2 linked regions of the Homo sapiens genome follow. The protein of the gene in region 2 interacts with the protein of the main gene of each other region in a biochemical or structural test. Each region holds a gene or a part of one and is shown on either strand. Other genes may lie near its edges.

The links.
Region 1: the proteins of ANXA7 (region 2) and PAX8 form a complex in vitro, tested with the Homo sapiens proteins (one large-scale study listed by BioGRID).

The regions. Positions count from the first base shown.
Region 1 is NC_000002.12:113,215,189-113,217,709, forward strand, and holds the end of PAX8 (paired box protein Pax-8), read right to left. Parts: 3' UTR 809-2,521; downstream 1-808. UniProt on the Homo sapiens protein: Transcription factor for the thyroid-specific expression of the genes exclusively expressed in the thyroid cell type, maintaining the functional differentiation of such cells.
Region 2 is NC_000010.11:73,407,241-73,411,358, forward strand, and holds part of ANXA7 (annexin A7), read right to left. Parts: intron 1,079-4,118; exon of another isoform or gene 936-1,078; intron 1-935. UniProt on the Homo sapiens protein: Calcium/phospholipid-binding protein which promotes membrane fusion and is involved in exocytosis.

The DNA of each region.
Region 1 (2,521 bases), on a different chromosome or scaffold from region 2:
TGGTAGAGGTTACGGGGTCACAGCAATTCTGTTCATCTGGTGGGCCCCAGGCAGGGTTCCAGCTGCCCCCTTTCCCAGCAAGAAACCCACTGACCTGCCAGAGTTGGTTGGTCCACATGAATTTCCTGCAAGCTCCTAGCACCCTGGGCTGGCCTGGCCTGTGCTAGAACCTGAGGATGAAGAGGAGTGAGGGTAATGGACCAGGGAGAAGTTAAGAGTAAACTGCCTGGGAAGCTCAGGTGGTCTCTCTACATGAGCAGTGAAAGGGATTATTCCAGGGGGAAGGGATAGGCCCTCAGTGCTCTCAATGCCTCAGCAATGTTTTGGGCCCATCCTCATCCCCAATTCTCCTACAAACACACATACCACCCCCAGAGAACCCCTGGCTCCCCTGCACCATAAAGCGACCCCCCTTCACCTGCGACCACTCACAGAAGCCGCCCTCCCTACCCCAGGTGAAAGTGGCCCCTCGGCCAACCCTCAAAGCCCCCTGCGTGTCCTCCCTGTCCTTGCCATCCCACCTTTCTTCATTGCGTCCCCCCATGTGCCAGCCTGACTCCTCCCAACACCACCCCAAATGCCGGGGCACGTCGAATTGTCTTTCTTTCGCCCGATACATAAATGGCCTTATTTTCTGAGCCCGAAAAGGGGACCCATGGTTTGACCATGGGCAGAATATTGGATGGGTACTAGCCAAGGCCTGTTACATGGGGAACACATCCCACAGTCAACAAACACCCGCTCTGAGCAGAGGCTCCTGGCAAGCCCAGCTCACCTCCGGGAAAGAAAGGCGAGTTTTAAACCATGGTCACCTTAGTCAAAGCACAGCCCAAGCCCCTTTATTGGTTGTGAGTTGGAAAGGGTCTGCCGGGGGTACAGAGTGTCCCCAGAGGGGCTGTGGCTGTGAATGCAAGGGATCGCTCTATGGGCTCCTTGGGATGCTGTGCTCAAAGTGATTCTTGGGTAGGGAGCCCTCGGGATCCCAGAGGTTTGTGGTCAGGAAGACTCTCAGATGTCATGGATTCGGAGTCGCGCTGCAGAGGGAAGTTCTGCCATTGAAAAACCAGCCGCATCTCAGATCCCTTCAGAAGAGATGGATTTTCTTCCAGGAGGGTTCCCCCTGCCATGCCATCCATGGCAGCATCCCTAACCGCTCTTTGGGAGGCCTAAGGAGGTAAGAGCCCTCTCTCCCAGCCTCTGTCCTCCCAGCCCTGGAGTCCTTGGGCCCCTTCTATCTGACTCAATCCCAGTGTTGTTTGTCCAGCTGCCCATATTCACCTGGGCATCCCAGCTGCAGGCCCCTGCCCCCTTGTTCCAGCTGTGTCCCACATGGAGAAGGTCCATGTGGACACCAGACAGCCCCCTGGAGTGCAGAGCCCGAGCTGTCACATTGCATTTCCCAGATTTCCTGGAGGTGGTTGGCCTAAAGTGCTAAGTCTCTACAGCCTCCCTCACCTTGTCCTGGCCACACTACACTCTACCTCTCCATTCAGTCAGGTCAAATCTTTAGCAAATCAAAAGAAATTAAATCCCCAGTGGCAGCTCCAGAACCTCCACTGGGTCTAGAACCATTTGGCATCCCTGATGAGGACTCTGGGGTTTTGGGTAAAAGCGTTGGGCTTAGAGTAAGAGGACTTGGTTGAATCTACTACTTTTCATCTTGGACAAGACATCTCATTTTTTTCAAAGCCTCAGTTTCCTCATATGTAAAATGAAGCTGTATGTAAAACAGGGCTAATTTCAGCTTAACTTATATGAAGCCTTCCATACTGTGCCTGGCACACAAGAGAGCCCAGTCTTCTCTCTCCCTTCAGAGCTGTTTATGCAGGCTCCAGTCACAGCTATTCCCGGATCCCTCACTAACCCACCCTGCTGATTCTCTGGCTTCCTGTTAATAACAACAGCAACTCCTTGTGGGGAGTCTATGGTTGGCTCAGTACTGTGCTATCCTTGCATTTGCTCAGTGTTGAAGAACTTGGGATGAGTGAGGTACCCAGCGTTCAACGTGAATTAAAGGCAGAGGGAGAAGGCCAAGCCAGAGCTCTGGGGCATCAGATGGTCCCTTCCAGCCCACGGCCCCAAAGTGAGTTTGTCGGCTACTCAGCTCTGATGTTCTTGGGAGAAAGCCCAGCCCCGGGATGCCTCCTTCCCCAGCCAACCCCAAAGCCTGAGATGAAGAGCAATGGTTTATTGAGTCATGTGGTAATGGCAGGTTGTCTTTAAAAAAAGAAAGAAGCATCAAGGAGAGAAGCCCCACAGGGCAAAGAGAGACATTTCACTCAGAGGCCAAAGTCTGGGGGTTAGAAAGAAGGAAGCTTGACCCAAACAAAGTTTCATTTACAGTATATACAGTCAGGCCTTGGGGGCAGGAGCTGCTGGGGAGCAGAGAGGGACCCTCTATCGCTGGCTTCAGGGGGTGCCTTGGGTCCCTTCAGTAGCTGGTGGGCGTGAGCTGCAGGAAGCACATTTGGCTTGGCAGGAGCTGTCAGGAAGGGGAAGCGGGTTTCCTGCGATTCTGCCT
Region 2 (4,118 bases):
TAATTTTTGCATTTTTAATGGAGACGGAGTTTCACCATGTTGGCCAGGCTGGTCACAAACTCCTGACCCCAAGTGATCTGCCTGCCTCAGCCTCCCAAAGTGCTGGGATTACAGGCGTGAGCCACTGTACCTGGCCTCAAACTTTAATGTGTATATGAATCCCTAGGGATCGTGTTAAAATAGAGATTTTAATTCAGTAGCTCCAGGATGGGGCCTGAGATTCTGCATTTCTAAAGCTTTCAGGTGATATGGATTCTGCAGGTCTGTGATTCACACTCTGATACCAGAATACTTTGGGATTTCTGGATCTACACCTAATTTTCTAAATTTGTAAATATATGTTTTGGCACTTTTCATCAATACAGCTGTAAATGATTCATATTTCTTTTATATCAGATGCCAAATAAACCCAACTCAAGTCAACATTTATGAAAGTCCACTGTGTAATGAGCACTGTCCTAGGTGCTGATAGAAAGATTAAGTATTCAGCCATTTGAGTACACAGTATAGGAAAATGAGATAATATAGTGTCCCTTATGACAGGAACACAGGATAGAAGCTAAAAATGTGCTGAATTGAGAATAAACGGACATAGATTGAATCAAGGCTATAAGTCAATAAGAAACATAAAATGATATGAAAACTGACCCAGTCAATTATAAAATAATCATTTGGGATCCCAAAGGGCTGGATATAAAAACAGGGACAGGCTGAATTTTTTTGCTTTTTTCTTTTCTAAGCCTGGGTTTGTATAAAGAGTAAAGGAGGGGCAAAAGCTCTAAAGAATGGTCAGATAGGCCAGGCGCAGTGGCTCACACCTATAATCCCAAAACTCTGGGAGGCCAAGGTGGGAGGACTGCTTGAGCCAAGGAGTTAAAGACCATGCTGGGCAACATAGTAAGACCTCGTCCCTACAAAAATATTTTAAAAATTACCCAGTGCAGCGGCGCCCACCTGTAGTCCAAACTATTCAGGAAGCTGAGGTGGGAGAATTGCTTGAGGCCAGGAGGTCAAGGCGGCAGTGAGTCGTGTTTGCATCATTGCACTCCAGTTGAAAGAAAAGACAAGACAAGACAAGGAAAAAGAAAAAAAAAAAGAAAGAAAAAGAAAAGTAGATAGACCAAGGGCAAAAGGGTCAGGGTCAAAATAAAGGAAAAAAAAATCTGAAAATAATTTATGAGATAAATTAATAGTAATTTGAAAGGCAATATGCAGTTACAGTACCAAAGACATCATAAGCAATTTAAATTTCTAAGTTTCAAGAAATTGTTCCAGTGACAAGACCTATATCTAAATTCTTTAGCTACTATCTTAAATCTTACCTTTAAGAGCCTGGAGGAATTATGTCAACAAAAATGAAAATAAGGCAAAGATTATCTGTATATAATAAAAATTAAAGCTATTTTAAGAAAGTGAATTTTGGTACATTTTGAAAAATAATTATATAAAAGACTAGAATGCAATTCCATTTCCAGGAATGTACCTTATAGAAATACTTGCACAAGGACAAAATTATATATGTACAAGGCTATTCACTGCAGCATTTTTGTAATAGGAAAAGGTTAAAAACCATGTGAATGTCCATCAATAAGGGACAGGTGTCATCCCAGGGATGCTGGAATGATTTAACATATGCAAGTCAATAAATGTGATGTATCACATAAACAGAATTAAAAACAAAAACCATATGATCTCAACAGATGCAGAAAAAGCATTCAACAAAATCCAGCATCCTTTACAATAAAGAACTCAACAAATGAGGCATAGAAAGGACCTAACTCAAAATAATAAAAGCCATATATGACGACAAAGCCAACATCATACTGAATGGGGAAAAGTTGAAAGCATTCCCCCTGAGAACAGGAACAAGACAAGGACATCCACTTTCACCACTCCTATTCGACATAGTTCTGGAAGTATTAGCCAGAGGGAAAGTAGGGGAAAGCAATAAAGTGTATCCAAATTGGAAAAGAGGAAGTCAAACTATCACTGTTTGCAGATATTATGACTATATACCAAGGAAATCCTAAAGACTCCAACAGACTCTTAGATTTGATAAATGAAATCGGTAAAGTCTCAGGTTACAAAATCAATGTACACAAATCAGTAGCACTGCTATATACCAAAAACGTCCAAGCTGAGAATCAAATCAAGAGCTCAATCCCTTTTATAATAGCTGCAAAAATAAAAAATAAATAGAATACCTAGGAATATGCTTCACCAAGGAGATGACAGATCTCTACAAGGAGAACTACAAAATACTGCTGAAAGAAATCACAGATGACATAAATGGAAACTCATCCCATGCTCATGGATTGAAAGAATCAATATTGTGAAAATGACCATACTGCCCAAAGCAATCTACAGATTCAATGCGATTCCCATCAAAATACCAAGATCATTTTTCACAGAATTAGAAAAAACAATCCTAAAATTAATATGGAACAAAAAACAGCCTGAATAGCCAAAGCAATTCTAAGCAAAAAGACAAATCTGGAGACATCACATTACCAGACTTCAAATACACTACAAGCCTATAGCTACCACAACAGCATGGTACTGGTTTAAAAGTAGGCACATAGACCAATGGAACAAAATAGAGAACTCAGAAATAAAGCCAAATACATACAGCCAACTGCTCTTTGACAAAGCACACAAAAACAAAAATTGGGGAATGGACATCCTATTCAATAAATGATGCTGGGAAAACTGGCAAGCCACATGAAGAATGAAACTGGATCCCTAACTATCATCCAATGCAAAAATCAACTCAAGTTGATAAAAGATTTAAATATAAGACCTGAAACTATAAAAATTCTAGAACATTGGAAACAGTCTTCTAAACACTGGCCTAGGCAAAAAATTCATGACTAAGACCCCAAAAACAAACGCAACAAAAACAAAAATAAATAGATGGGACCTAATTAAACTAAAAAGCTTCGGCACAGCAAAACAAATAATCAACAGAGTAAACAGACCACCCACAGAATGGGAGAAAATATTTGCAAACTATGCATCCAACAAAGGACTAGTATCCAGAATCTACAAGGAACTCAAATCACAAAGAAAAAAAAACAATTGCATTAAAAACTGAGCAAAGGACATGAATAGACATTTCTCAAAAGATACACAAATGGCCAAAAAACATGAAATAATCATTAATAATTCAACATCATTAATCATCAGGGAAATGCAAATTAACCACAATGAGATACCACCGTGCTCCTACAGGAATGGTTATTCTTAAAAAGTCAAAAAATGGGCCGGGCGCGGTAGCCCCCATCTGTAATCCCAGCACTTTGGGAGGCCCAGACGGGCGATCACCTGAGGTTGGGAGTTTGAAACCAGCCTGACCAACATGGAGAAACCCGTCTCTACCAAAAATAACAAAATTAGCTGGGCATGGTGGCGTGTGACTGTAATCCCAGCTACTTGGGAGGCTGAGTCAGGAGAATTGCTTGAATCCGGGAGGCGGAGGTTGGGGTGAGCTGAGATCACGCCATTGCACTCCAGCCTGGCAACGAGAGCGAGACTCCATCTCAAAAAAAAAAAAAAAAAAAGTCAAAAAACAATAGATGTTGGTGTGGATGTGGGGAAAAGAGACCGCTTATTACACTACTATACAGCCTCTACAGAAAACAGTATGGAGACTCCTTGAAGAGCTAAAAAAGATCTACCATTCAATCCAGAAATTCCACTGCTGGGTATCTACCCAAAGGAAAGAAAGTCATTATATGAAAAAGACTTTTGCACATGTATATTTATAGCAGCACAACTCACAACTGCAAAGATGTGGAACCAATCTAAGTGCCCATCAACTGAGTGGATAAAGAAAATGTGGTATATATAAACCATGGAATACTACTCAGCCATTAAAAGGAACAAAATAATGTCTTTTGCAGCAACTTGGATGAAGCTGGAGGCCATTTTTCTAAGTGAAGTAATACAGGGGTGGAAAACCAAAAGCCGTATGTTCTCACTGTGTAAGTGGAAGCTAAGCTATGAGTATGCAAAGACATAGGTATGAAGTGATATAATGGACTTTAGAGACTCAGAAAGGGGAGGGTGAAAGGGGGCTAGGAATCAAAAACTACACATTAGGTACAATGTACATTACT